Homo sapiens: one gene and its partners. The protein of the gene in region 4 purifies or fractionates together with the protein of the main gene of each other region. This does not show direct contact. Each region holds a gene or a part of one and is shown on either strand. Other genes may lie near its edges. The genes, in order: GRSF1, ATL3, ARL8A, SLC12A9, CLGN, MRPS9 and EMC1.

Region 1 (4,233 bases), on a different chromosome or scaffold from region 4:
AGATGTTCTAATGCTGACATAAAACCTTGAAACTATAAAAGGGGAGATTTAAGAATTCAGCGATGTAAAAATAGTTTCTGCCATCATGAGCAAACAAAGAGGACAAACTGGGGGGAAAAGGTATTTAAAGCTCACTATAGGAACAAAGTACTCCTGCAGATTAGTTAAAAGACCAAAGCCAATAGAAAAGCGGTTAATAAACATCACACAAAGGCAATCAGCCAAACTCAGATTATGGAAACCTACAGGTTAATCTTATTTCTTCAGCAAATAAGAAAAAAATAAATGGATGGCAAAACATCCTGAATAAGAGAAGAAACAGACACTTCAACTTTACTAAAGATATCCAAATGGCTAGTAAGCTTATGAAAAAGTACTATTCATTGTCAGGGAATGCAAATTAAAACCAGAAGATACCACTACACAATGGCTAAAATTATAGACTGACAACAGCAAATGGTAAGGATATGGACCTACTAGAACTCTGGGAATGTAAACCAGGATAACCATTTAGGAAAAGGTTTGTCGTCTTCTAGTAAAATTTAAAATACATCAACTCAGGATAATCTCACTCCTAAATACTTATCCAAATTAAATTAAATTAAAATGTAGGTTCACAAAAAGGTTGTACATGTTCATACCAACTTTATTCATGATAGCCCCAAACTAGAAACAGCCCATTGTTCACCAGTTAGTTGTTCACCTAACAGGTGAAACGTTAAAATGTGGCATTCATACATAGAACACTGCTCAGCCATAAAAAGGAACAAAGCTTAAACACACTGATGAACATACAAACATGCTGAGTAAAAGGAACTTACAGAATACATACTGCATAAGTGAGTCCGTTATATGAAGTTCTAGAATAGGCAAAATTAATCTACAGTGAACAAAATCCTAACAGTAGCTGACTGCCAGGGGAGGGAAGAAGGGACAGGAGAGAGAGGTGCAGGAATTGACTAGGTGAAAAAATTCAGATGTAATACAGATGTTCCAGACATAGGGGTTTGAGTTACATGCTTTTACATCAAAACTCATCAAATGAGTCTGGGTATGGTGGCTCACACCTGTAATCCCAGCTACTCGGGAGGCTGAGGCAGGAGACTCCCTTGAACCCAGGAGGTGGAGGTTGCAGTGAGCCAAGACCAGGCCACTGCACTCTAGCCTGGGCGATACAAGACTCCATCTCAAAAAAAAAAAAAAAAAAAGAAAAAACCTCATCAAATGATACACTTAACATTTATTCACCTTACTGCAAATCTCCCTCAAAAAAACTCCAATGACGGCTGGGTGTGGTGGCTGATGCCTGTAATCCCAGCACTTTGGGAGGCCGAGGCAGGCAAATGACTGGAGGCCAGGAGTTCCAGACCAGCCTGGCCAACATGATGAAACCCCATCTCTACTAAAAATACAAAAATTAGTCAGGCGTGGTGGTGCACATCTGTAATCCCAGCTACTCGGGAATCTGAGGCATGAGAATTGCTTGAAACTGGGAGGTGGAGGCTGTAATGAGCTGGGATCACGTCACTATAACTCCAGCCTGGGTGACAGAGCGACTGTCTCAAACACAAAAAACAAAAACAAAAACAAATTCCCATGACATGTATGCTGAAAGGATTAAAAGTGAAAAATGTCTACAACTTACTTGGACATGCATATAGAAAAAAAGATGAGACTGCAGGAGGCAGGCTATGGGATAAAGCATGGCAAAATGCTGCTTGTACAATCTAAGGGATGGGTATTGGCATCACCAAGATTTTATATACTGACAGAAAATGATCTTTAGGGTGTTTAGGTGGGAGAAAAGCCAAAATACAAAATAGCATGTACAGTATAATTTATATTTTTAAAAGAAATGACAACACCCACTAACACTTGCTTATAAATAAAGTAAAAGTCACTGCAAGCTTACACTAGAAACTGATAACAGGGCTGTGCGAGAATAGAAACTAAACAGCTGAATTACAGGAGGGGAAGGAGAATCTTCACTACCGTTTGTATCTCTTCAAGTTTATTTCCTTCAAAAAATAAAATATAAACAACTTTAAAATGAGCCTGCTTTTTTTTTTTCTGAGACAGGGTCTCACTCTGTCACTCAGGCTGGAGTGCAGCAACAGTCATGGCTCACTGCAGGCTTGACTTCCCAGGCTCAAGCAGTCCTCCCACTTCAGCCTCACAAAGTGCGGGGATTACAGATGTCAGCCACCACACCTAGCCTATTCTTGATTTTCATATAATCAGGCTTAAGACAGATTAAACCTTCCTTCCTATACTTCCTTTCTAAAAATAAGAAAACCACTAGAACTAAAATTCTGGACAGAAAATCCAGACACCTCACCAATGATGATATAAGGATGGCAGATTAAGTATATGAAAAGGTGCTCCACATCACTATGGGATTGGGAATTAAAACGATGAGACCACTATTCACCCATTAGCTAAAATGCAAGAGTGACATCACCAAATACTAATGAGGGTGAGGAGCTACAGGAACTCTTATTCATTGTCAATGGGAATTCAAAATAGTCATGTTGGAACAGTTTGGCAGTTTCTTCCAAAACTAAACATACTCTTAACTTACAATCCAGCAACCTGGTTCCTTGGTATTTACCCAAAGGAGCTGAAAACGAGTCTACACAAAAACCTGCACATAAATGTTTATAGCAGCTTTATTCCCTTCCTACAAACTTCAGATTCTCTTCTAATTTGCTGAACTTGGGGAGTGGGAGGGTAATGTATTTCTAATGCGATAGCGCAATTTGGATTGGAACTCTACTGCTGACATACATACCATTCTCCTCTATACTATAGGTCCTACCAATTCAATGTGAGTGTCTTCCGATAATTTAGGGGAAACTCTCAGAACAATGGAGTTTTTTGTATTTTGGTTTTTTTGATTTTGACAGAGTCTCACTCTGTTGCCCAGGCTGGAGTGCAATGGTGTGATCTTGGCTCGCTACAACCTCTGCCTCCCAGGTTCAAGCGATTCTCCTGCCTTGGCCTCCCAAGTAACTGGGATTACAGGCGTGTGCCACACCTGGCTAATTTTTGCATTTTCAGTAGAGCCGGAGTTTCACTAAGTTGGCCAGGCTAATCTTGAACTCCTGACCTCAAGTGACCCACCATGGAGGGTTTTAAATTCTGAAACAAACAGGATGTAACCCCAAAAAATAACTTTCCAAATGAGAACTGAGTAAGGGCTGTTCAGGGCAGAGGACATTAACAAGGCATGTTGATTAATAAGCAGATTCATGGCACACAATGTTGCCTTCAAACTGGGTTCCTTATGCTTCCCCCTTCAAGTAACACAGAAGTAGTGAGAATTTGGAGCCTTCCTCCCAGGGAAGATTCGGTCCCCCTTCCCACATGACAGAAGCTTAAGTTACCCACGCATAAAGGGACACATACTCTATTTCTGCTTCATTGCCTGGTGTCAATATTTAGATGAGACCACAATATTCAGATGAGACCACAATATTCAGCAATCAGCTCCCTGGTATTTACATACTGCTTCTCAGAGTTCTCCCTTGCACTCCGTAAGCAGCAGCTAGGCTAAAGCAGGATATGAGCACCCTGACCATATGCCCCACTCCCACTATTCTTCCTGATGGCTTTACCACAAAGGAAGTTATAGACACAAGGAACCCAAACAGAAGGAAATTCACCATCACTGCTTCCTTCAATAGCAAAGAGTGATGCAAAACAGTCTTCTCAAATGTGGGGAGACGGTACCGTCTTCCACTTGCATGGAAATAAGATTACTTTTACTGTATTATGTGCTTCTCTTCCTTTCCCATAACTACATCCACCTTAGCAATCACTTACGTACTAGCCTAGATCATGAACAAAAACAAAAGGGAGCATTCAAATACATAAAATGATTTCCCAATAATGGCCACATTTTGTACAGAAAACTCAGCCTGTAGCGTGCCAAGAAGATATATCCTTTCAACCTTACCCATCCATCATATAGCATTTTAATGCTTTGCTTGCATTCTTTTTCCAGAGATGTGCAAATAAAACTCATTAGCTTAAATCAATTGCAGATGAATTCCTCACAGTAGGCCCCACAGATCTTTTCCACAGCAAATCAGATACCAAATGTGAAAGAGCAACAAAGATCACATTCTAATAGTTCGTACAACTACAGATACCAGTTCTCATAGCTTGGCATATTCAACCATATATGAAAACGCATTTCCATCTAGGCAGTACTACTGATGATGTTAAGCT
Region 2 (4,233 bases), on a different chromosome or scaffold from region 4:
GAGGCTGTGGCAGCAGCTAACTCCCAAGAGAGCCAGGGGAACATCTGCTCTGTGGCTAGGGTAGGATAGGCAGCTCCTGTGGCTTCACAAGCTGCTAACCCAACTCACCTGTTCATGTTACTCAGAAAAACAAATGTATCATCTCAAAGATCTACAAAACTTGTGACCATGTCAATGTCCAAGAGCTACTGGGTTAGTCAGGTGTGGTGGCACTCGCCTGTAACACCGGCTGCTTGGGAGGCTGAGGTGGGAGGATCACTTGAGCCCAGGAGTTTTAAGTTACAATGAGCTAAGATACCAGCCTGGGTGACAAAGCAAGACCTCGTCTCCAAAAAAAATTTTATAAATAAATAAATAAGCAACCCAATAAATAAATAACCAAGCCACTGGCTTTTGGAAGATTTTTAAATAAAAAAGATACCATCCCTTTCCTAATCCAGTAGGACTCAAAACCGAACATTTTTCGTTAAGTTCATAATTTTTTCAAAGTTCTTGCTTTTCAATGAAGTAAATTAATCTAGAGGGGGTGAGAAGTGAGAATCACATAAAAATTATGTCTGAAGAGCATGTAATTAGAAGTTGCCGACCAGGCGCAATAGCTCATGCCTATAATCCTAGCACTTTGGGAGGCCGAGGTGGGTGGATCACCTGAGGTCAGGAGTTCAAGACCAGCCTAGCTAACATGGCAAAACACTGTCTCTACTAAAAAAAAAAAAAAAAATACAGAAATTAACTGGGCATGGTGTCAGGCACCTATAATCCCAGCTACTCTTGGGAGGCTGAGGCAAGAGAATCACTTGAACCCAGTGGGCAGAGGTTGCAGTGAGCCAAGATCACACCACTTCACTCCAGCCTGGGCAAAAGCGTAAAAATCTGTCTCAAAAAAAAAAAAAAAAAAAAAAGTTGCCAAAGGGGAACACAATCAGTATGTCTAAGTTGGAATGTTTTTGCATTAAAGGGCTATTTTTGGGCTGGGCACGGTGGCTCACACCTGTAATCCCAGCACTTTGGGAGGCCGAGGCAGGCGGACCATGAGGTCAGGAGTTCGAGACCAGCCTGGTCAACATGGTGAAACCCTGTCTCTATTAAAAATACAAAAACTAGCGGGCCGTGGTGGCACACACCTGTAGTCTCAGCTACTTGGGAGGCTGACGCAAGAGAATCACTTGAACCTGGGAGGCGGAGGTTGCAGTGAGCCAAGATCATGCCACTGGACTCCAGCCTGGGCAAGAGAGCACAGCGAGACTTTGTCTCAAAAAAAAAAAAAAAAAGCGGGGCGGGGGCCTTTTTAGACATGGAAACAAAATATTAAGAATAAATATTAATATCCTAAAGGATAATAAAACATACAGTCTATCAGAAAACAACAGCCAACGGAGTGGCCACTGTCTCATGTCTTCACTATGAAATTCTTCCAAACTGAGATATTTTACAACAGAAGCACAAATATCTGCCCATTATCAACCCTCAGGCTCTTCAGCAGCACCACTTACCTGCTCCAACACATATGCGGCACCAAAATCAATAGCTCCGCCCAGCTCACGATATTGACCAGAATACCTGATGTAGCCCCAGGTGAGGAGTGCTATTAACAGTAGTCCAACCATACAGTTGAACAACTGGGCTACAACCTCAAGACCTATGAAGCCAGTGAGGCCTGAGGCTATGTACAAAGCTACAATGCCCGTGAACAGCACTGCAGGGGTTCGGAAGGTGCTGAAGACGTTCTTGCTACCATTGTGCTTGCAGAAGTTCTCATATAATTCCTTGATTTCCTCCTCCAGCTCCTGCTGGTAACGAAAGCTGAAATCCTTCCCACCCATCTTCTTGGTCTTCTTAAAATGGTCCAGAGCAAGTTGTTTGAATTCACAGTGCTTCTCCTCTAGAATGTCTGGAGACAAATAAGGTTTCTCTCCCCCACAAACCTAAAAAGAACAAAGAAACAATATGTTAAAAGATCTCTTCAAAAACAAGTGCCAAATAAAACATGAAAAGATAATGAAAGGATTAGAATGTTTTAAGATGTTAACAATGTATTAATAAGTTAACTTTTAAAAGATGACTAAGACCAATAAAGTCTAGTTTCACTTCCTCTGAAAAGCACACTTAAAAAACCAGGGTGATAATATCAATTGGAAAGAGCAGTGACACTGGGACGGGTGCGGTGGCTCACGCCTGTAATCCCAGCACTTTCGGAGGCCAGGGCGGGCAGATCACTTGAGGTCAGGAGTTTGAAATCAGCCTGGTAAACATGGTGAAACTCCGTCTCTACTAACACAAAAAAAATTAGCCGGGCGTGATGGCAGGCACCTGTAATCCCAGCTACTCAGAAGGCTGAGGCAGGAGAACCGCTTGAACCCGGGAGGCGGAGGTTGCAGTGAGCCGAGATCGCACCACTGCACTCCAGCCTGGGCGACAGAGTGAGACTCCGTCTCTAAAAAACAAAAGCAAACGGTCGACTTCTGCAGGGCCCAGGTGAGAAAGGCCCACCTGTGTCCTGGTTGAGGGTCCTCAGGGTTCTTTGGGACCCGAGGATTCCTGAAATCATGGATCACCCACATACGCTTTGAGACATGCTTTAATTTTTTTTTTCTGGAAGCCCTGCGACTTCCCTAAAAATTAAATGAATTATAGAACAGATCTATGACCAATGGTGGCAGAGTCTACATAGAACTATGCTTCGTGGTGCTCTGGGGAAACCTTCTGACTTGTTGGCTATGCTATTCAGTATGGCTGTATAGCTCACTGTGCTTCTGAATACGTTGGTGGTGTTGTCATGTGTTCTGGACCATCAATGGAGCCTACAATTCAAAATTCAGATACTGTCTTTGCACAAAATCTTAGTCGACATTTTGATAGTATCCAAAGAGGTGACATTGTGATTGCAAAAAGCCCAAGTGATCCAACATCAAATATTTGTAAAAGAGTAACTGGTTTGGAAGGAGACAAAATCCTCACCACTAGTCCATCAGATTTCTTTAAAAGCTACAGTTATGTCCCAGTGGGTCATGTTTGGTTAGAAGGTGATAAATCTACAGAATTCTACAGATTCCAGTTACTATGGACCTATTCCATATGAACTAATAAGAGGACGAATCTTCTTTTAAGATTCGGCCTCTGAGTGATTTTGGATTTTTATGTGCCAGCCTTAATGGCCACAGATTTTCTGATGATTAGTAAGCATTTATTCTTTTGACTTGATTATTGTCTCCTGCTCATGTGAATTTATTACTCCCATTGAAACTATGTACTTACCAATAAACTATTTGCTATTCAAAACAAAACAAAACAAAACAAGAACAAACAAACAAACAAAGAAATGGTAATAATTAGAAGGCCCCCGTTACCAGGACAACCTGAATATAAGTTTATTGCCTCATCACTTAAAGATACATTAAGTAGGATCAAGTTGGGCTTTTGAAGTCAGCAACAATGCCCAGATTATAGATATTTCAGAATAAGGCGTATGTCCCACGTACCTCTTCCATGTTGTTATAATAAATGTCCTTGGCAGAGGCTGCAGCTGCTAAGTTGTTGGCTTCAGCAGTGGCCTTTTAAGAGAGAAAAACGTGAACTGTAAATCCTTCCTCTTTTAACATTCCTCCACAAATAACCTAACAAAAATCTTCTCTATTCCCCATTCTTCCTTTTTTATTAACCTTCTATTTTTCTAGATTTCCATATAGTTCAACTGATGAAATAGAATACACTTTTTCTGCCAAATTTTCTACCAAAAAAAGGTAGAAGTTCATATACATAGAAATATGTATTCTTATACATAAGAATCTTTAGCAAAAATTAAATCTCCAAAATTCAAGGAAAATATTATTTCCATTGCATCAATTTATTTTTTAATTGTTTAAATTTTTCTTTTTTTTTAAGACAGAGCCTCACTCTGTCACCCAGGCTGGAGTTCAGTGGTAATCTCAGCACACTACAACCTTCGCCTCCTGAATGCAAGCCATCCTCCTGCCAGTGCGTGCCACCACGCTTGGCTAACTTTTTAAGTTTTTGTTTTGCAGAGCTAGAGTCTCCCTATATTGCCCAAGCTGATGTTGAACTCCCAGGCTCAAGTGATCTGCCCACCTCAGCCTCCCAAAGTGCTGGGATTACAGGAGTAAGCCACCACACCTGGCTCCATTGCTCCAACTTTAAGAAATAGATGTGAGTCAAAAAAAAAAAAAAAAGAAGAAGGAAAGGTTGGGCGTGGTGGCTCACGCCTGTAATCCCAGC
Region 3 (4,233 bases), on a different chromosome or scaffold from region 4:
CGCGGCTGTCCCCCAATGTCCCAGAGCTGAGCAAGAAGAGGGTGAGATAGCCTCAGTAGTGGGCAGGCCACCAAAACGTGTCTTGGGTCTCAAATGCCCCCTCCTACCCTGCCCTACTCTCCTCTGCCTCCCCGGCTTCCTCTCCAGTTCTCCCCCGTCTCCACCCGCTCTCCGTCTACCTTAGAAGTCTTCTACTGTCTTTTCCCAGCTCCTCAGCAGGGGGACCCTGGCCTCTGCCCCACTTCAGCTCGCTCCTCCCAGGGGCCTCCGTTGCCCTCCCCAACACACACACACACACACACACACACACACACAAAAACAGTCCTCTGCACCCCCCAAGCTTCTGGGCCCTCACCTTGATAGTCACATTCCCTTTGGTGATTTTGCGCATGTTGAAACCCACGGTGGGGATCATGTCCTCGTTGAACTGTCCTGACTGGAAAGAAGACTCAGAATGGGAAACAGTGCAAAAATCGATATGCCCCCACCGCAGACCAAGAGGCTGCGAGAACCATGCAGAGGCCAGGCCAGAGCTTCCTAGACTTCCCACTGTGGGGTACTCTTGCACATCCTGTGCTTTCAGGCAGGATGGGCTATCACCAACCTATGTGTCCCGCCTACACCTGGGGATGCCCTGTGAAAAGACCCGCTTTTGTCAGACAGTCTCAATCTCTTTGCCTAGACTAGGGGAAAATTCTTCCTCAAGTCTAACCTACATCTCTCTGTAGTAACTGACGCCACTTTCTCTCCAGTGGAGAGGAAGAAGAAATTACCTTCCAGCAAGAGAACTTGAAGCAAGTCATGTTCTAATAGTTAAGGAGGATCTCAAAGAAAGCAGATGAATTTTCAAACTAAAAAATCAAACTTTTTAGGGCAGAGTATATTGGTCATCCTGAAAATGCAGTGCATGCCAAGCAATTTCTGGATTATCCATGGTTCAGTTTATTTGTACTGTACTCCAGTTATTGGGAAGGATAACCTACACTCTATATCGTCTGCTTATTTATCTATGTGTCTCCTCACTAGAAAGAACACTTCCTGGGAGAGGACCCAGGTCTATAGTAACACCATTAGTAAATGTTTGCTGAATACTGGGGGTTTGACTGTAATTCCATTTTCCAAAATCCATTCTGTATTGTCTCTAGGATTTCTGGATTCTTCTAAACTACCTACAGTCTTCAAATAAGGCCAGACCCAACTCCCTCCCAGGTCATATCTCCATGTTCACAGGTAGGACACTTCTGCTTATCCCTTGGAAGCAGGCTAAAGAGATGGGGCTCGGCCGGGCGCGATGGCTCACACCTGTAATCCCAGCACTTTGGGAGGCTGAGGGGGCAGATCACGAGGTCAGGAGTTTGAGACCATCCTGATCAACATGGTGAAACCCCATCTCTACTAAAGATACAAAAAATTAGCCGGGTGTGGTGGCGTGTGCCTGTAATCCCAGCTACTTGGGAGGCTGAGGCAGGTGAATCGCTTGAACCCAGGAGGTGGAGGTTGCAGTGAGCCGAGATCATGCCATTGTACTCCAGCCTGGGTGACAGAGCAAGACTCCGGCTTGAGAAAAAAAAAAAGATGAGGCTCATTCAACATTGAACCTGAGGGTGATAGCCCTGTTCCTTTTTTTTTTTTTTTTTTTTTTTTTTTTTCTGAGACAGAGTCTCGCTCTATGGCCCAGGCTGGAGTGCAGTGATGTGATCTCAGCTCACTGCAGCCTCTGCCTCCTGGGCTCAAGCGAGGGTCTCCTGCCTCAGCCTCCCCAGTAGCTGAGACCACAGGCATGTGCCACCACACCCAGCTAATTTTTGTATTTTTAGTAGAGACAGGGTTTCACCACATTGGCCAGGATGGTCTTGAACTCCTGACCTCAAGTGATCTGCCTACCTGGGCCTCCCAAAGCGCTGGGATTATAGGGGTGAGCCACGGTGCCCGGCCAAGCCCTGTTCCTTTACCATGCCTTTTTCTCCCACCAGCTGGTAGGAATAATTTGCCTTGGGTTACATAAAGAGATCAGGGGCCCTGACCATTAGCCAAGATGTAGGAGATGATTGGCTCTTATTTGGTGCCTCCATGTCCACATGAAGACCCCTGATATCCCATCTGAATAGACTGCTTTGATTCCCTTTTTTTTTTTTGAGACGGAGTCTCACTCTCTCGCCCAGGCAGGAGTGCAGTGGTGTGATCTCGGCTCACTGTAGCCTCTGCCTCCTGGGTTCAAGCAGTTCTCCTGCCTCAGCCTCCCAAGTAGCTGGGACTACAGGCGCGTGCCACCATGCCTAGCTAATTTTTTTTTTTTTTTTTTGTATTTTTAGTAGATTCGGGGTTTCACCATGTTGGCCAGGATGGTTTCGATCTCCTGACCTCGTGATCCGCCCACCTCGGCCTCCCAAAGTGCTGGGATTACAGGCGTGAGCCACCGCGCCCAGCCCAATTCCCTTTTATCTGCAGGAACCACCTATTCATCAGGGCCTTAGGATGATATAAGAACTGAGTACCCAGGACTGACACCCAATGACAAGGTCCAGCAGCGGTTTCCAACCTGAGGTCCACAGTTGGGCTTCAGAGATCCCCTGAACCCCCTGAAACTGTACACAATCTGTGTGTGTGCAAAGTTTTGTTTGTGTGTACATTTTTCTGGAGAAAGGGTCTCTCACTTCTTTCAGATATCAAAAAGTTCTGAGAGCCCCCAAAGTTAGGAACCACTGAGGAAGAGGGAATGGCTTCTTCTAGCTAAGCAGGGAGAATTAAGTGTGCTGTAATTACCCAAACCCCGGCAGCCTGCTGCAGTCTACCCCATCCCCAACAATAGAGTCTGAGGAAGGAGGCCCAGTTCTTGTTTGTCTCTCATCCCAGGGGGTGCTTGGATAAGAAACTTGAACTTCTCTGGACCTCAGTGTTTCTGAATGTAAAACTGGGGAGAAGGGTTTCGGTCTCCTAGGAACTGTAAATAAGACTCACAACATGCTTGGAAATGGTTTCGATATAGCATGGGGAACCATCACTGCTCTTTGGCAACTAGAAGATCCACAGGCTACCAAGTAAATGAGAAGCCCAGCCTGGCAGAATGTGACCTTGGCAGAGGGGGATGCTGGGAGGACCTTCAAGGAGCCAGGCTCCCCGGCACCAGTAGGTCTTGTTCAGCTGTGAATCGGAGCTAAGGTGGAATCAGATTATGACTTAATTTCCCTGCTAATGCCTCCCTGTCTCATAGGCTCCTCATTTAAGGTTGGAAGTAACCTGAAGTCATGCAGCCCAACCTCTTGTCTCAGACTTCAGTCCCTTCTGCCCCATCCCCTCTTGGGTCAGTTCCAACTATCAGAAAGTTCTTTATATTGAGTTAACAATCCGGCCGGACATGGTGGCTCATACCTGTAATCCCAGCACTTTGGGAGGCTGAGGCAGGCAGATCACCTGAGGTCAGGGGTTCGAGACCAGCCTGGCCAACATGACGAAACCCCATCTCTACTAAAAATACAAAAATTAGCCAGGCATGGTGGTGTATGCCTGTAATCCCAGCTACTCGGGAGACTGAGGCAGGAGAATTGCTTGAGCCTGGGAGGCGGAGGTTGCAGTGAGCCGAGACTGTACCACTGCACTCCCAGCCTGGGTGATAGAGCAACACTCTGTCTCAAAAAAAAAAAAGAAAAAAGAAAAAAAAGAAAAAAAAATCTATCATTCCTAGAATGTCCACCCATTGTTCCTAAGTCCCCTTGGGCACTCCAAGACTAGTTATTCCATAGGACAGTCTTTGACACTTTTAAATATTTGAAAATGACCCTGTTGTTTCCTAGGACAAAACATCTCCCACTTTTCTAGCATCACAACTTTTTCAGAACTCAAAGGATGTTTTAGGTTCCTTTTTTTTTTTTGAGACGGAGTTTCGCTCTTGTTGCCCAGGCTGGAGTGCAGTGGCGGCACGATCTTAACTCACTGCAGCCTCCGCCTCCTGGGTTCAAGCAATTCTCTTGCCTCAGCCTCCCAAGTAGCTGGGATTACAGGTGGCCACCACCATGCCTGGCTAATTTTTGTATTTTTAGTAGAGATGGGGTTTCACCATGTTGGCCAGGCTGGTCTCGAACTCCTAGCCTCAGGTGAAACCCCCACTTTGGCCTCCCAATTGCTGGGATTACAGGCGTGAGCCACCATGCCCGGCTGATGTTTCAGGTTCTTAGAAGCAGTGTATATAATTTCTTTCCAGCTCACATTAACCTGCTGAGCAGCTAGACACACTAA
Region 4 (4,233 bases):
TCTCCTCTCGACTATAAGGTCCTTTTGCAGTTTGCAATCTGTGGCTGACTCTCTAGGGGAGGGGAGCGGAGATTTGAAGTGGCCACAGAGGAAGGCCGAGGGCATCCAGGGAGAAGCAGCTCACCGAGGCCGGAGATTCGCAGCAGATGCTGAGCCCCCTGGCGCACGGAGGGTGAGAGGGTTAGATCCACAAAAGCCTTCACCTGGGCACGGTCCACCAGGCTGAGCCATGCCCCATACTGCGGCTGTACAGGGTCCGAGGGCAGGGAGTCTACAGAGAAGATAAGGAAAGGAAGGTAGCCAGTGTTGTCCAAACTCAATGTCTCCTAGAGTCCAAATCACAGACGGGCCTGGGCAGGGCTATGGCTACTTGGAGGGGTCATGGGAAAGGATAAAAGGGGCAGAGGGGCTGGTGTCGGGGCTCATGCCTGTAATCCCTGCCCTTTGGGAAGCCAAGGTGGGAGGGCTGCTTGAGCCAGGAGTTCCAGACAGCCTGGGAAACATAAAGAGACCTCATCTCTACAAATGAGCCAGGCCTGGTGGCACACACCTGTAGTCCCAGCTACTCAGGAGGCCAAGGCAGGAGGATTACTTGAGCCCAAGAGGTTGAGGCTGCAGTGAACTATGATGGCACCACTGCTCTCCAGCCTGGGTGACAGAGCAAGACCTTGTCTCAAAAAAAAGCGGGGGAGGGGTTCTGGCCGTGGTGGCTCACACCTACAATTCCAGCACTTTGGGAGGCCGAGATGGGCGGAGCACTTGAGGTCAGGAGTTCGAGACTAGCTTGGCCAACATGGTGAAACCCCTTCTCTACTAAAAATACAAAAACTAGCCAGGCATGATGGTGTGTGCCTGTAATCCCAGCTCAGGAGGCTAAGGCAGGAGAATTACTTGAACCTGGGAGGTGGAGGTTGCAGTGAGCCAAGATCGTCCCACTGCACTCCAGCCTGGGCAACAGAACGAAGCTCCATCTCAAAAAAAAAAAAAAGGTAGGGGGAGAGAAGGATGGGAGTGAGTGAGTGAGTGGGAGGGCAGCTCACCGAGGTCTCCCAGGGTGACGTGGCCCAGCACATACAGCCCCCCCTTCTTAAGCTGGTTGGCCAACCGCAGCAGAGGCAGGGCGCCCCGGGGGTTCCCCACCAGGAGCAGCAGCTGGGGCCGCCAGAACTTCACGTGATCCTTCCGGACGTCCAGCCGAAGCAGATACTTACGCACCTGGGTATAGGGGTGAGGCAGTGGGGAAGTGGCAGGATCAAATGCACAGCCCCGTTCAGCGCCTCCTGGACGGGAGCACCAACTCCAGCCAAAGAGAGAGGGGGTTCTTTGACCACCTCCCATTTCCCCACCGCCCCACCAGCTCCCCATACCTGGTGGAAAAGCAAGGCCTGGCTGACATAGCCCCAGCTACTGGGGCCTCCTCGCGCGGTGAGCAGGGCAGCCAGCAGACCCATGAGGAGCAGGGAGCCACCAGCCGCGCCAGGACTGATGAGGAACATCATGAGCAGGCAGGAGGCCACCCCCAGCAGGCAGGTGTGCCAGGAGAACAGGCTGAAGGTGGGGCTGCGGGCATGGAGGGGAGGAGGGACAGAAACTCAGGGCAGGCCGCACACGAGGCTGCAGTCCCCAGCCCCACGCCTGAGCCCGAGTCCTCCCTTCTTCTCTCTGGGGACACAGATCTGAGTCTCTCACCGGAAGTTGGGGGCCGAGGCCCACTCCAGGCTCAGGCAGGACAGGTCCACGGCAGCATAGGCCACCAGGTAGAAGACAGTGACCACAGCAGCCAGTGTGTTCAGCTTCCCAGCCAGGAGCACCAGCTGGGCAAGGGCCAAGAGGCGTGCCGTTGTTCCAAAGTGCCAGTGCACCCCCAAAATGCCAGTGAACACCAAAGAATGCCAGTGTACCCCAAAGTGTCAATGAGCCCCAGAAAGTGCCAGTGAACCCTGCAAAGTGCCAGTGCACCCCCAAAGTGTCAATGAACCCCCAAAATGCTATTAAACCCCAAAAGTGCCAGTGCACCCCCAAAGTGTCAATGAGCCCCTAAAATGCTATTAAACCCCAAAAGTGCCAGTGTATCCCCAGTGTCAGTGAACCCCAGAAAGTGCCAGTGTACCCCCAAAGTGTCAGTGAACCCTGGAAAGTACCAGTGAACCATGCAAAGTGCCAGCGCACCCCCAAAGTGTCAATGAACCCCAGAGAGTGCCAGTGCACCCCAAAGTGTCAATGAACCCTGAAAAGTGCCCGTGAGCCCTGTAAAGTGCAAGTGCACCCCCAATGTCAGTGATCCCCAGAAAGGGCCAATGCACTCCCACAGAGTGCCACCAAACCTCCAAAGTATCAGTGAACCCCCACAAAGTGTTGGTACATCCCACAGAGTGCCAGTGAATCCCTCAAAGTGCTGGGGCACCCCACAAAGTGCCAGTGAATACTGAAAAATACTAGTATACCCCAAAAAGTGTCAGTGAACCCTGCACAATGCCCGTGTACCCCAAAAAGTGCCAGTGAACCTCCCAGGGTGCCAATGAACTCTGCAAAGCACTGGGGCAACCTGCAAGGTGCTGGTGAACCCCACAAAGTGCCAGTGAACCCTGCAGAGTGCCAGTGCAACCCCAAGTGCATACGCATTTGTCTTTACATTTGTCTCCCAGCCTGCATCTAACTGCACCCCCATCCTGCCAGCTGGTGGGGTGAGGGAAAGGGCCCCTTGAAGAAGAAGGCTCACCTGCACCAGGCCCCAAGAATAAAGTACAGCTGCCCAGGGGTTTCCCCCTCGGGACACAACCTTGGCCGGTGCCAAGATCACGCCTAGAAAAACAGAATCCACAGCAGACACATCAGCCAGGGCTCAGCGGGGACGGAGAGACAGACAAGGGAGGGCGTGCTCCAAGCCAGCAAGGAGGCAGAGAACCCACCAAAGAGGTCATCCCGGGCCAGGGCATGGAGGATGCGGGAGGCACCAATGAGCGAGCTCATGGACGCTGAGAGCGCTGTGGCATAGATTCCGATCAACACCAGTGGGGGCCACAGGCTGATGGCGCGGAAGAACCCATAGTCTTCCTGCAGCAGGGTCCTAGGAAGGAGGAAAAGGAGGACACGGATGATCATGCGTCACGGGGTAAGAAAATCTCCAGCCCCGATCTTAAGGATCAGACTCAGATATCAAATGTGCTAAAGGGATATGCCTGGTATTCATTGGGCAGCCTTGGATTTAATCACTCAGTGGTCATTCCTTCCTTTTTTTTAAGAGACAAGGTCTCACTCCAACCCCCAGGCTAAAGTGCAGTGCTGTAATCATAGCTCACTGCAGCCTCGACCTCTTGGACTCAAGCAATCCTCCCACCTCAGCCTCCCAAGTAGCCAAGACTACAAGCATTTGCCATCACACCTGGCTAATTTTTGTATTTGGGGGGAGGCTCTTGCTCTGTTGCCCAGGCTGGTCTGGAACTCCTGGGCTCCAGCGATCCTCCTGCCTCAGCCTCCCAAAGTGCTGGGATTACAGGTGTGAGCCACCGCACCCGGCTGTCATACCTAATGGTATATGCACAAGAGGCCAAATATTTGTGGAAATGCAAACTGGGTAGAAAGCCACTACCCACCCTCACTCCCAAGCTAAGTGCCTGCAACAGTACTGGGTCCATGGCAGCTGCTGGCTATAGGTTGTCAATCGCCGGTAGCCACCCTCCACCCCAACAAGCTGGGTTTCTGCTTCCCAGTCCCCCAGCCTGTGTTTCCCCTTGGTGACCCAGGTGCACCAATCTTGTTCGACACTCCACCCCCATCCCTCCCCAGACACCTGTCACAAGTGAAGCTGGAGAGAAAGAAAAGCAGGACATAGACGAAGAAGGTGTAGGCGACGGCGACGATCGTGCCCAGAGGGATCGCCCGGCTGGGGTCCTTCAGCTCCCCTGGAGAGGGGGAGCAGAGGGAGTGAGGTCAGCCCTCCAGCCATCCCCCTGGGTCCCTCACGGTGGCAGCCCCAAACCCCCAGGAGGCAGCAGGCAGGGACTCTCACCTGACATGTTGGCCCCAGCCATGATGCCTGTACAGCCGTTAAAGAGGACAGCAAAGACGCTGGCAAAATTCATCACGGCTCCCGTGGTGTAGTCCTCAGCATAGCCAGCTAGGAGGATCCTCCCAGGGAGGAGAGTGCATCAGCATCCGTCTCAGGGATCCAGGCCTCTTAGCCACCCTCTCCACACATTCCCACGGTCCTCTTGCCTCCCCTGCACTGCCCTC
Region 5 (4,233 bases), on a different chromosome or scaffold from region 4:
TAAGTCCTCATTTTATTCATTAAATTATAACATCACTAATGGGATTTAATGCTTATTTACTGTTCATAGAAGAAGACTACTTAATATCTTTGTCATCTTGCCAGTTCAAGACCTAAGTGACAATGATAATCTAAATATTACTGTTTATTTAACTATTTTTTACTTAGAGGAATGTACAAAGAATTTATAGTTTAACATTATTAAATTCTGTTCCAGTTTTTTCCCGAAACCTTAACACTGTTTAGAAAAGGTTGGGCTAAATATTTCAACACAATGCATCTTAGAAAATGTATCATTAAATTCAGTTGCTATAAAGAAAAATTCTTACCTTACATTTGGTTCCTTGGGTCACTAGCGAAAAACCATCAAAAGAGTAGGTGAAGAGGGATTCTTGTTTTGAACCTCTTGTAACTAAAACATTTGATTTTTTAAATTTTATTTTAATAAGAGAAATAATATCCTTACTGAGGGTCTTATGTGTGAAATGTGTTTATATAAAAAAGAAAACAATTCTGAGGTATGATTTTTAGTAAGTTCTTTAAAAGTACAGAATGAATGATCAGAGTACAGAATGAATGATCACTTCAAATAAACCAGGTAATACATCCATAAAAGGTAGTTCTATTCTGAAATTTACCAAAAAGGAAAATTACCATTTTTCTTGCCAGTATGTTAGAAGTTTCCACTTTTGTCATAACATACCTTCTGCTATCAAGTCTCACTCAGTGATGCATGCTAATAATTAAATTAGACTTTACAAAGTATAAGGTGGGAAAATGAAACTTCTTTTACTTACGAGTTCATCACTCCTTAATGTAAAATGCCTGAGTAAATAAGTTTTTTTGTATCTTGTGTTACCCAGTAAAGGTTTGTAAAATTTGAATTGCATTTTTATGCTTATCTCGTCTATAGCCTGGTGTATTAAAACAGTTAATGGCAGCTGCTGAAGGGCACCCATGGCTTTGGTTGATTTATCTTGTGACAGCAGGAGTGCCAATAGCATTAATTACTTCATTTTGTTGGCCAAGAAAAGTAAAGGTAAAGAAAATGGATTTCCTTCAACTTTTTTCACCCAAATTTCTTGTTGTTTAAGAGTTCTATAAATTAAGCGATTCTTAAAAGTAATAAACTAAATGTCTCATAAGTTTTACTGATAGTTCATTATGTATGTTATCAATTATTGCAAAAAAACTTTCAAAATAGCACTCTGCCTTTAGTAAAAATAACTTATGTTAACTACCACAGAAAAAACATAAAGATACAGAGTATAAAAAAACCGACATATGTATACCACAAACAAAAGGAGTACTAGAGCAAGAAGAAAAGGAAGAGAAAGCAGCCCTGGAAAAACCAATGGACCTGGAAGAGGAAAAAAAGCAAAATGATGGTGAAATGCTTGAAAAAGGTAAGATGATGAGAGTGATTTATAATGGAGACTCTGGGTAAAGCTCATAAAACTGTATATGGCCTTGAAATAACTAGTTATTATACTTGTTTATTATCAAGTTTATACATCTGAATCTCCCAAGAATATGTGACTGTGGCAAGAAGGAATAATAGTCCTCTGAGCAGCCACCCTGTTTATAGTTTTTGCATTCTAGGAAGAAGGAGATTTAAATAGTGTTCAGTTGCTTGAGAGCCTAGCAGTTAATGAATCCCATAGGCCATAGCTTTTTGCAAGGATGTTTCTTGGCTCTGGGAGTGTAGAAGATGAGATGGAGGGTGATAGAGGGTGTATATCATGGCCTCTGTAGAAAAGGAATAGATATAAAACAGATGATTGCAGCAACAAAATCAACACCAAGTCTTCCAACAGCTATTGTTAGTCAGATGCTTATCATATAGAAGAAATAATTTAATTAATTTTCTGAAAGGATTGCTGAACCTATATCCCCTTCTCACCCTATGTTAAACTCTTGAAGATGTTAGAACTGAAGTCACCCTTTGGTGGCTGTCCGCTGAGACCTCCTTACATAAGGTAGAAATAAAACTATTGATTTGCCCAGTGTCCCAAGCCAAATGTCTTGAAGCACAGTGTTTAACTCACTTAATGAAACAGTTGACTTAAAAACACATATGTGTCTATCTATTTTTTAAGAGACAGTATATATATATATACACACATATACATACACATGTTCATGTGTGTATTAGGATAGGTATCTAAAACAACAAATGTTTCAGGTTGTAAGTTTCCAGCCTTGTTTTTGTAACTTCTTAGTGCTTAGTATATTGATGTCTGGATCAGCCTTATTTAGAGGGAATTTAAGTATCGGAGGGGCCTGCTTGTATAAAGGTACTTTCACCACTTTCATCTATACACGTAGTCCCACATTGGAACTACGTAGAAGAAGTAGAGTTGATTTTTCAACTTCCCTTTCCCCAAAGCCCATTCTTGGTAGGGTAGGAGTTTTTACTTTATATAGCTCCTAGGACGTGCTTAATATCTTTTGGTTAATAATGATGACAAAAGTTGGAGGTTCTGCTAAATGGAATCCTAAGGAGGGTCAATAACTGAAAAAATGCATGATGTCCACAGAGAACAAACATAAGTAAATAACATATTGAAGATTAAAAGATCACCAAAAATTAAAGGAAGTATTTTCCAAGACAGGAACACAGGAAAGATTATTATTTTTTGGTTTTCATATTACATACAGACTGAATGCTTAAGAATTTTTTAAACTTGTCCCCAAACTCAAATATGATTCATTTATAAAATATGATAATATAATGAGTATTTATAATTTTTAAAATTTTGAATGGAAGAAGTTGCTTCTAAATCTTGGAATAAATCTTGGAATTTAAATAAATCCCATTTATTGTATTTAATACTTTTCAGTAGCAAAATTCTAATTTATTGAGTCTTTGCTTTTAACAAAATCTGTATTCTAGAAGAGGAAAGTGAACCTGAGGAAAAGAGTGAAGAAGAAATTGAAATCATAGAAGGGCAAGAAGAAAGTAATCAATCAAATAAGTCTGGGTCAGAGGATGAGGTAACAGAAAATAAGCTGGTTTCTATGTATAGTTGTTATCCATAAAAAGTTTTTTCAATAAAAGCACCAATATGATTTATGAAAGAATTTTTGCCATATTTCTCTCAGCTTTTATAAGAGCCTCTATATTGTTTTTAAAACATATCCATAAGGAAGGAAAGAAAAATACTGTAATTTATATTGTCTCAATGCCTAGTAAAACAGTATAGAGCAAGCCTGTGGCGTACAAAATATAAAGATAGAATACATGTATCCAAAATTATGACTTTCTCATTGAAATTCTATTGAAAAGCATAATAAACACATTGTTTGAATATTTAAAAGATAATTATCATTATTATAATTTTTATAGCTGTTGTAAAACATCTTTATTGTCTCAACATTTTACTCTCACGTTTTAAAATATTTCATTCATTGGGTAGTTGAGTACTATCTGCCTGATAGGGTATTTTTCTCAAATCTTTAGTGAACTTTTCTCCCCCCTTATTAGTCTACCCCTTTTTGTGTCCTGATATAAAATGGAACTTTGCACAATGCTTTTTTTTTGTAAGTTATTATGGAATGAGAAATCCCGAGTATAATTAGAGCCAGAGCTGTCTTTTTTCTTTTTTGTTTTTAATCCAGCATAAACCAAAAACCAGTTTTCTCTGGCCCTTAAAGAGCTGGGTAGCCTTACCCCACAGAGTCACCATCCTAACATATTACATTCCAACTATGTAGGTAGGATAAAAGTACAGTTCTGCCTGCTCTTGCATGTGATGAAATGAATTTTGTATTTTATCTATTTAAAGAAATCCTCCAAATAAATTTGCAATTATTGTTAAGTCTTTCCTAATGTTTAATCAGTACACATACTGTTTGCTGGTCTTCCTGCCCTCTGAGTTTTTATAGGGACTTTGGGACCATTATTTAGTATGAATATCCATATTTAGGGAGAGCTAGGTGAAGAGAATTTCTTCCAGAGCCAAGTTTTAAATAATCATTGTTTCTGCTGTGACTTTCTTAAAATAATACCTGCAGTCATTTACTTGAATATGTATTCTATTTACATTTACTTTACAAAATATTTTGTGTACCTTCGAAAACATCTTAATTCCATCTTTCAGTCTTTCCGTCTTCTTATGTGTATGTGTCAGTGAGCTGGAATACATCGATTTTTGTATAGCCTTGAGAAATAACTATAACTTTATTTCATATAATACCTTCATAATAGCACTTGATTGATAGCACATATATT
Region 6 (4,233 bases), on a different chromosome or scaffold from region 4:
AGAAGCAGATGAACATGTATAGCCAGTATTGGGCCACCATGCCCGTCCCACCTAGACTCATACCTTGTCTCATCCACTCGACCTCGTCCTCGGTGACAAAGCTGCACAAGGCTTTTGCCATTGCCAGTCGTATTGCTCCAGCCTGCGCTGACCTCCCGCCCCCTGAGACTGTGCAGGTCACGTCGTGCTTTCCCAGCCGGTCAACAAAGTGGAAAGGGAACATCAGCTGTTCTCTAAAGCACAGCACAAGTAAATGTGGTTACGTTTACTATAAAGATACATAATTATGTAAACAACTGAAATTCTGAATATTCATAAAAACAATATTCTGCATGCCACTGTTATACTTTTCATACTTCTCAATCAATCCATTTTACCAAGATATAGAAACACTAACATTTCTGACATTTTGAATGATTTGCTGAGAGATTAAGATTTATTTCTTTTGCTTGGGTATAGCAACACACTCTTACTGTTTGCTGATCCCCTTTATCTCAGAAGATCTTTTCAAAGCTTGAAAATAATCTCGTAAAGAAGTCTTACAGTTGGGGAACTCCATTAATCAACTGAATTTAATGTCTCTGGATTGAATGATCAGATATAAAATCAATAGGCCTTTCCAAACAATTATCACATGTCATTTGGATTCACTAAATAAAGTCTACTATAAGTGTATCTGTATAATGTATAATGCTCATCTTGATATGGTTAGTTTTTAAAGTTTCTAAAACTATTTTCGACCTTGCACTTCCCTGACACCAAACACCTATTCCCAATATTCTTAAAGTTCTCTAAATCATAGGGTCCTGCTACCTTCCTGGGGCCAGGTGACATTCTACACAACCCCTGTCAGGCCTGCTCTTTCAGGGTCGGTCAGGGCCTACAAGATCCTGGGGCAGGCACCACAGACAAAACACGGCCCTGGACTTTCTCCTGCTCAACTGAACAAGTATTTGTTGAATATCATTTTCACGCCAGGTAAGATGTTCACCATTACCTCTGTCAAGCACTTTGATTTTGCTATTTTGCCTTAATATCTTGCTACACTTTTATGCAGAAAAGCTCACTTATATTGCGTTTGCTTTCTTTGATGCTGTAGCTTCTAGACCCAAAATCAAGTTTATATAACACAGTTAAGCTGAGAGACAGGTATGGACAGGACATTCAAGTGCTATTCTTCATACCACACTAGTAAAATAATCACAAGCAGATGGGCAAAAGATGACTTTCAAAAGCCATAGCAAATCGGAATTTATAACAATACGATGTAGGGATGACATAACTCCTACAACAACAAAAAACTCATAAATCTATACTGTCTTTTTGAACAAATGCTTCCAAGAAACCAAATGAAAAGTAGCCATAAGTTATAAAAACAGTATTATAAGTAGTATCTATTAATATACTATGATAACTAAAGAAAATTTAAGCTGAGCACCTAAAGTACAAGCTACTCAGGAGGCTGAGGTGGGAGGACTGCTTGAGCCCAGCAGCTTGAGTCCAGTCTGGGTCCAGAAGTTTGAGTCCAGCCTGGGTGACATAAAGAGACCTTGTCTCTTAAAAAAAAAAAGTAAATATAAAAGAAAATTTAGGCTGGGCGCAGTGGCTCATGCCTGTAATCCCAGCACTTTGGGAGGCCGAGGCGGGCAGATCACCTGAGGTCGGGAGTTTGAGACCAGTCTGACCAACATGGAGAAACGCCGTCTCTACTAAAAATACAAAACTAGCCAGGCATGGTGGTGCATGCCTGTAATCCCAGCTACTCAGGAGGCTGAGGCAGGAGAATTGCTTGAACCCAGGAGGCGGAGGTTGTGGTGAGCCAAGATTGCACCACTGTACTCCAGCCTGGGCAACAAGAGCGAAACTCCATCTCAAAAAAAAAAAAAAAAGAAAAAAAAAATGTACAGACTGAAAATCTAATTCCACTATTGCATTTACCTCGACCATCTGGCTCCATGACTCAGTTATATATCCAGTAATTACATTATGAAATCTATTTTTCTAGATTTTAATTGAAGTCTCTTTTTATTTATATAAGCATTTGTTAAAGAATCATAAAATTTTAAAAATTAAGCCAGGAAAGTGTTTAAGCTCCCAAACAAATGGCTGTCCAGAAGCCTCCCTTGTAACTTCACTTACGTGGCTAACCCACTTCACTGTGTGTTAGGTGATGACAGAATTCCGATCAAGATCCCTGATTCTGGGTTGGTTAGTCTTCCTATTAGTCAATGGTCACCTCACTGCTGATTTGTAAGTTCCTGAAGTGACTGCCCTAAATCCTTACAACTACTTTAAAATAGTTGTAGGTGCCCATTCCCACCAAGACTAGGCTTAGGCTTCCCAACCATGTAGGAAGTTTCTTGACAATAGGAATCATATCTTAAATATCTCTGATATCTTCACAATGCCCAGAACAAGACTGGAGACATAGATGTCCTTAGTAAAAAGCTGCTGAATTCAAACCAAAGAATAAGATCTAAAGATGTAATTTCATTATGAGATCAAGCCAGAATTGAGACTTGCTGTTAAATCATCAGGAGTTATGTCTGAATACAAATCAACAGACAGGTTATTGGTTAAAGAACAGTCCTCCTATAGTTCCCAATGTTGAAGTTATCAAACCCTGGGGTATGGGTTTCTCTCTGGCTTTTCCTAAGGGAAATAAAAGCTTCTTCCATCCCCTGTCCTGTGAGGATAATAGCAGAACTAATTCATCTTAAATGGAGTTAAGAATGCACTGCTTGTTGACACAGGCACACACAAATAAAATAAACACACATTTCCTAAAATAATTATTGTGTCCAGAAGCTTACACTGTATTAGGAGGGTCCTCTTTTGCCTATATCAGCATTGGTATCAAAAGAGTTTTAGCCCTTTTGACCTTAAATACCGTAACACATGCAGGAAACAGGAGAAGGATTAGGAAAGGAGGAACTAATCATACCAAACTTCTGTTACTCGTGGATAATGACAGTAAGTACTGGGAAAATAATAACCATATCAAGAAGAGGCCTTTATATAGCAAGTCAGAGAGAGTTCTGAGATGAGTATATTTAGATTAGAAGAGCTGTAGTATCTATTTATGATTAATGTCTATTTCTCCATAGGATACAAAGTTTAAAAATTAAAACTGCCATATTTAGCACCCAGAACTAAGCAAAGCCTGATGAGTTCTTATTTTAACCCATAAATGCTAGGTTTCTTTGCTTGCTCAATATATATAATCACATTCCTCTGAATAGGAAAAAATCCAAAATGATAAAGCAGAATTTTTCTAATATTTATGATCAGAAAAACATACACAAGCCACAAGAAATTACTTGCACTTTTCTTTGCCTTGTGAGTTAGGTCAGTTTTAAGTGCCAAGGCTGGTTGTTGTGGTGGTGGTTTTGTTTTGTGCACGCCCATCCCCAAACTAGAAGGTGGAAATCTAAATCAAAATTTTTTACATTTTGGCACAGTCTGCACTTCAGAACATAAGCTACATCTAAGACTACTCAAACTGCAGTAGGATCTGATGAAAAGGGGAAGAAGAGTCAATTAATGAGGAATTCTAGAGATGCTTTTTAAAAAATCTGGAAGCTGCTTTAAAAAATAGCTTCAATTAGCTAGTTTGATATGTTACATTGGTAAAGAGAAATAATCATTCAGATAAACAGAATTAGAAGATCACAAGCCTTCTTAAATGATCATGATGTATTATAAAGTATGTTTCCTTTAAAAACAAAAAATCAGAACCCAAAACGAACCTGTCCTGTGTGATCGGGAAGTAAAGCTGGTAATCAATTCCATTTACTTTTATTCTTCCACTTCCATGTTTATAAACAATTGCTTCTGCTTTTGCAGTCTTTCTTTTACCTTCAAAAATATAAAATTCCTATTAGTAAATATCTTGAAGACCTGCGCTTTGAGACAGGTAAAACTACATTAAAATTTGTTTCCCCAAAATAATACACAACACTGTACATAAGCAAGTCCTATAACTATTATTTCAAGTCAAACAAAAATAAAGCAGGTAAACTACAGCACAACAGATGCAATAAAGCTCATTGTGGGGTAATTTTGTTCTTCAATTCCATTTTAGAAACACTACAATGATTTTAAATTAGTTTGAACAACCAACAAAGTAATTTATATTCATTTCCCTTACGAGAATCCACAACCAATTTACATAGCATTCTTCTTTTATAAACAGTAAGAATATATCTAACAACATAAGTTTTAGAAATATAT
Region 7 (3,500 bases), on a different chromosome or scaffold from region 4:
TGTCTCCTGAGAAAAAAAGAGTACAGGGGACCATAAGGAGCTAAAATCACCATTCCACAAAATGCTCCGGAAAAAAAATCACAGGGCTATCACCATCACATTCATTTTAGGACACATAAGACGTGTTTGTTAGCTGGGCGCAGTGGCTCACACCTGTAATCCCAACACTTTGGGAGGCCGAGGCAGGCAGATCACCTGAGGTCAGGAGTTCGAGACCAACCTGATCAACATGGAGAAACCCCGTCTGTCTCTATGAAAAATACAAAATTAGCTGGGCATGGTGGCGCATGCCTGTAATCCCAGCTACTCGGGAGGCTGAGGCAGGAGAATTGCTGGAACCCGGGAGGCGGAGGTTGCAGTGAGCTGAGATCGCACCATTGCACTTCAGCCTGGGCAACAAGAGCAAAACTCCATCTCAAAAAAAAGAAGTGTTTGTTAGTGAAGAGCTCTGACCAAAAGCAAGATTTCCATTCAATGTAGTCAGATGCAAAGAGAGTAAGAGAAGAAAATTAGCTCCTAATAGATAATACTAACTCTTCCTTCTAAATGGAAGCACATATTTACCTTCAGATAAGTGACACCCAAAAGGGCACCTTACCTTTCTTTTTTTTTTTTTTGAGACGAAGTCTCACTCTTGTCCCCCAGGCTGGAGTGCAATGGTGCAATCTCAGCTCACTGCAACCTCCACCTCCCAGGTTCAAGCGATTCTCCTATCTCAGCCTCCCGAGTAGCTGGGATTACAGGCACCTGCCACCACGCCCGGCTAATTTTTTTGTATTTTTAGTAGACATGGGGTTTCACCATGTTGGCCAGGCTGGTCTCGAACTCCTGACCTCAACTGACCCACCCGCCTCGGCCTTCCAAAGTGTTGGGATTACAGGCGTGAGTCACCACGCCCGACTGAGATCACAGCACTTCTTAACAGCACAGAGCAAGCACCTCCTTTGTACTTGGTAGCCTACCATGTGAGGCTAATAATTTTCTCGATTAGGATCGCTTGAGCCCAGGAGGTCGAGGCTGCAGTGAGCCGAGATCACACCATTGCACTCCAACCTGACAAGACTCTGTCTCAAAAAAATAAACAGGCCAGGCGCAGTGGCTCACGCCTATAATCCCAGCACTTTGGGAGGCCAAGGTGGGTGGATCATTTAAGATCAGGAGTTCGAGACCAGCTGGCCAACTTGGTGAGAACCCATCTCTACTAAAAATGCAAAAATTAGCTGGGCGTGGTGGCACGTGCCTGTCATCCCAACTACTCGGGAGGCTGAGGCAAAAGAATCGCTTGAACTCAGGAAGCAGAGGTTGCAGTGATCCAAGATCGTGTCACTGAACTCCATCCTGGGCGACAGAGTGGGCCTCTGTCTCAAATAAATAAGTAAATAAAATACTGTTGTTTTATCTGGATATAAAAGTAATGCCTCCTTATTACAGAAAATGAGTGGGTGGGGGGAACACTTATAACAATTTAAAAATCTCCACCAGGCACGGTGGCTCACACCTGTAATCTCAGCACTTTGGAAGGTCCAGGCATGCCGAACACTTGAGGTCCGGAGTTTGAGACCAGCCTGGCCAACATGGTAAAACTCCATCTCTTATAAAAGTACAAAAATTAGCTGGGCGTGATGGGCACCTATAATCCCAGCTACTTGGGAGGCTAAGGCAGGAAAATCGTTTGAACCCTGGAAGCGGAGGTTGCAGTGAGCCAAGATCATGCCACTGTACTCCGGCGTGGGTGACAGAGCAAGACTCTGTCTCAAAACAATAAAAAATAAATAAATAATAAAAATTTTAAAATGTAATATATCACTCTTCTGGATTGAATTGTATCCTCAAAAACTCCTGTGTTGAAACCCTATCCCCCAGTGTTACAGTATTTGACGGCAAGGCCTTTAAAAATGTAATTATGTTTTAATAAAGTCAAAAGGGTGAGGCCTTAATCCAATAGAGGAAGAGACATCAGGGATGTGTAAGCACAGTAAAGGCCATGTAAGGATACAGCAAGAAGGCAGCCTTTTGCAAGCCAATGAGCGAGGCCTCAGAGGAAACAAAACCTGCCAATGCCTTGATCTTGAATTTCCAGCCTCCAGAACTGTGAGAATATCAATTTCTATTGTTTAAGCCACCTAGTCTATGGTATTTCATTATAGCAGCCTGAGAAAACTAATACAACCACCACTATAGATACACTTTTTATTATTTGAGATGGGATCTCACTGTGCTGCCTAGGCTGGATTGAACTCCTGGGCTCAAGTAATACTCCCATCTCAGCCTCCCAAGTAGCTGGGATTTCAGGTGCATGCCATTGTGCCCAGCTTTGTACATATACTTTTAACGTTTTACTATACAGTCATGCACTGCAAAACAATGTTTCAGTCAATGATTGATCGCATATACAGCATATACAGTGGTGGTCACACAAGAGTATAATGGAGCTGAAAAATTCCTATAACCTAGTAACATTGTAGCTGCTATAACATTGTAGTCGAATGCATTAATCACGTTTGCGGTGAAGGTGGTGTAAACAAACCCACTGTACTGCCAGCTGTATAAAAGTACAGCATATTCAATAATGTATACTACATAATACTTGACAATGATAATAAATGACTGTGTTACTGGTTTACGTATCTACTTTTTATGGTTAGAGTACTCCTTCTACTTATTAAAAGAAAATTAACTGTAAAATAGTCTCATGCAGGTGCTTCAAGAGGTATTCCAAGCTGGCCGCAGTGGCTCATGCCTATAATCCCAGCACTTTGGGAGGCGGAGGCGAGCAGATCACCTGAGGTCAGGAGTTCAAGAACAGCCTGGCCAACATGGTGAAACCCCATTTCTACTAAAAATACAAAAATTAGCCAGGCATAGTGCTGTGCACCACAGTCCCAGCTACTTGGGAGGCTGAGACATGAGAATCACTTGAACCCGGGAGGTGGAGGTTGTAGTGAGCTGAGATCATGCCACTTCACTCCAGGCTGAGCGACAGAGTAAGACTCTGTCCCAAAAAAAAAAAGAGGTATTCCAGAAACAGGCATTGTTATCACAGATGATAGCTCCATGGGTGTTACTGCTCCTGAAAACCTGCCAGTAAGACAGTATGTGGAGGTGGAAGACAGTGATATTGATGATCCTGACCCTATTTAGGCCCAGGCTAATGTGTTTGTGTCTTAGTTTGTTTTTTGTTTGCTTGTTTTTTGAGATGCTCTTACTCTGTCACCCAGACTGGAGTACAGAGGCACCATCACAGCTCACTACAGCCACGACCTCCCAGGCTTAGGTGATCCTCCCACCTCAGCCTCCCGAGTAGCTGGGACTACAGGCACCCACCACCATGCCCGGCTAATTTTTGTATGCTTTGCAGAAATGGGGTTTCGCCATATTGCCCAACCTGTTTTTTGTTTTGTTTTGTTTTGTTTCTGAGATGGAGTCTCGCTCTGTTGCCAGGCTGAGTGCAGTGGCGTGATCTCAACTCACTGCAACCTCCGTCTCCCAGGTTCAAGTAA

What was found.
Region 1: the proteins of SLC12A9 (region 4) and GRSF1 purify together in Homo sapiens (affinity purification with mass spectrometry; one large-scale study listed by BioGRID and IntAct). This does not show direct contact.
Region 2: the proteins of SLC12A9 (region 4) and ATL3 purify together in Homo sapiens (affinity purification with mass spectrometry; one large-scale study listed by BioGRID and IntAct). This does not show direct contact.
Region 3: the proteins of SLC12A9 (region 4) and ARL8A purify together in Homo sapiens (affinity purification with mass spectrometry; one large-scale study listed by BioGRID and IntAct). This does not show direct contact.
Region 5: the proteins of SLC12A9 (region 4) and CLGN purify together in Homo sapiens (co-immunoprecipitation; 2 studies listed by BioGRID and IntAct, with this or other methods). This does not show direct contact.
Region 6: the proteins of SLC12A9 (region 4) and MRPS9 purify together in Homo sapiens (affinity purification with mass spectrometry; one large-scale study listed by BioGRID and IntAct). This does not show direct contact.
Region 7: the proteins of SLC12A9 (region 4) and EMC1 purify together in Homo sapiens (affinity purification with mass spectrometry; one large-scale study listed by BioGRID and IntAct). This does not show direct contact.

The regions. Positions count from the first base shown.
Region 1 is NC_000004.12:70,815,158-70,819,390, forward strand, and holds the end of GRSF1 (G-rich sequence factor 1), read right to left. Parts: 3' UTR 626-4,233; downstream 1-625. UniProt on the Homo sapiens protein: Regulator of post-transcriptional mitochondrial gene expression, required for assembly of the mitochondrial ribosome and for recruitment of mRNA and lncRNA. Binds RNAs containing the 14 base G-rich element.
Region 2 is NC_000011.10:63,629,547-63,633,779, forward strand, and holds part of ATL3 (atlastin-3), read right to left. Parts: intron 3,552-4,233; coding exon 3,480-3,551; intron 3,277-3,479; exon of another isoform or gene 2,648-3,276; intron 1,926-2,647; coding exon 1,494-1,925; intron 1-1,493. UniProt on the Homo sapiens protein: Atlastin-3 (ATL3) is a membrane-anchored GTPase that mediates the GTP-dependent fusion of endoplasmic reticulum (ER) membranes, maintaining the continuous ER network. It facilitates the formation of three-way junctions where ER tubules intersect.
Region 3 is NC_000001.11:202,138,013-202,142,245, forward strand, and holds part of ARL8A (ADP-ribosylation factor-like protein 8A), read right to left. Parts: intron 437-4,233; coding exon 356-436; intron 27-355; coding exon 1-26. UniProt on the Homo sapiens protein: Plays a role in lysosome motility. In neurons, mediates the anterograde axonal long-range transport of presynaptic lysosome-related vesicles required for presynaptic biogenesis and synaptic function. May play a role in chromosome segregation.
Region 4 is NC_000007.14:100,858,719-100,862,951, reverse strand, and holds part of SLC12A9 (solute carrier family 12 member 9), read right to left. Parts: intron 4,118-4,233; coding exon 4,010-4,117; intron 3,903-4,009; coding exon 3,791-3,902; intron 3,068-3,790; coding exon 2,910-3,067; intron 2,803-2,909; coding exon 2,720-2,802; intron 1,815-2,719; coding exon 1,690-1,814; intron 1,561-1,689; coding exon 1,368-1,560; intron 1,216-1,367; coding exon 1,041-1,215; intron 272-1,040; coding exon 125-271; intron 1-124. UniProt on the Homo sapiens protein: May be an inhibitor of SLC12A1. Seems to correspond to a subunit of a multimeric transport system and thus, additional subunits may be required for its function. May play a role in lysosomal ion flux and osmoregulation.
Region 5 is NC_000004.12:140,389,391-140,393,623, reverse strand, and holds part of CLGN (calmegin precursor), read left to right. Parts: intron 1-912; coding exon 913-1,038; intron 1,039-1,245; coding exon 1,246-1,405; intron 1,406-2,895; coding exon 2,896-2,996; intron 2,997-4,233. UniProt on the Homo sapiens protein: Functions during spermatogenesis as a chaperone for a range of client proteins that are important for sperm adhesion onto the egg zona pellucida and for subsequent penetration of the zona pellucida.
Region 6 is NC_000002.12:105,093,155-105,097,387, reverse strand, and holds part of MRPS9 (small ribosomal subunit protein uS9m), read right to left. Parts: intron 3,859-4,233; coding exon 3,750-3,858; intron 337-3,749; exon of another isoform or gene 234-336; coding exon 64-233; exon of another isoform or gene 1-63.
Region 7 is NC_000001.11:19,245,025-19,248,524, forward strand, and holds part of EMC1 (ER membrane protein complex subunit 1 isoform 1 precursor), read right to left. Parts: intron 7-3,500; coding exon 1-6. UniProt on the Homo sapiens protein: Part of the endoplasmic reticulum membrane protein complex (EMC) that enables the energy-independent insertion into endoplasmic reticulum membranes of newly synthesized membrane proteins.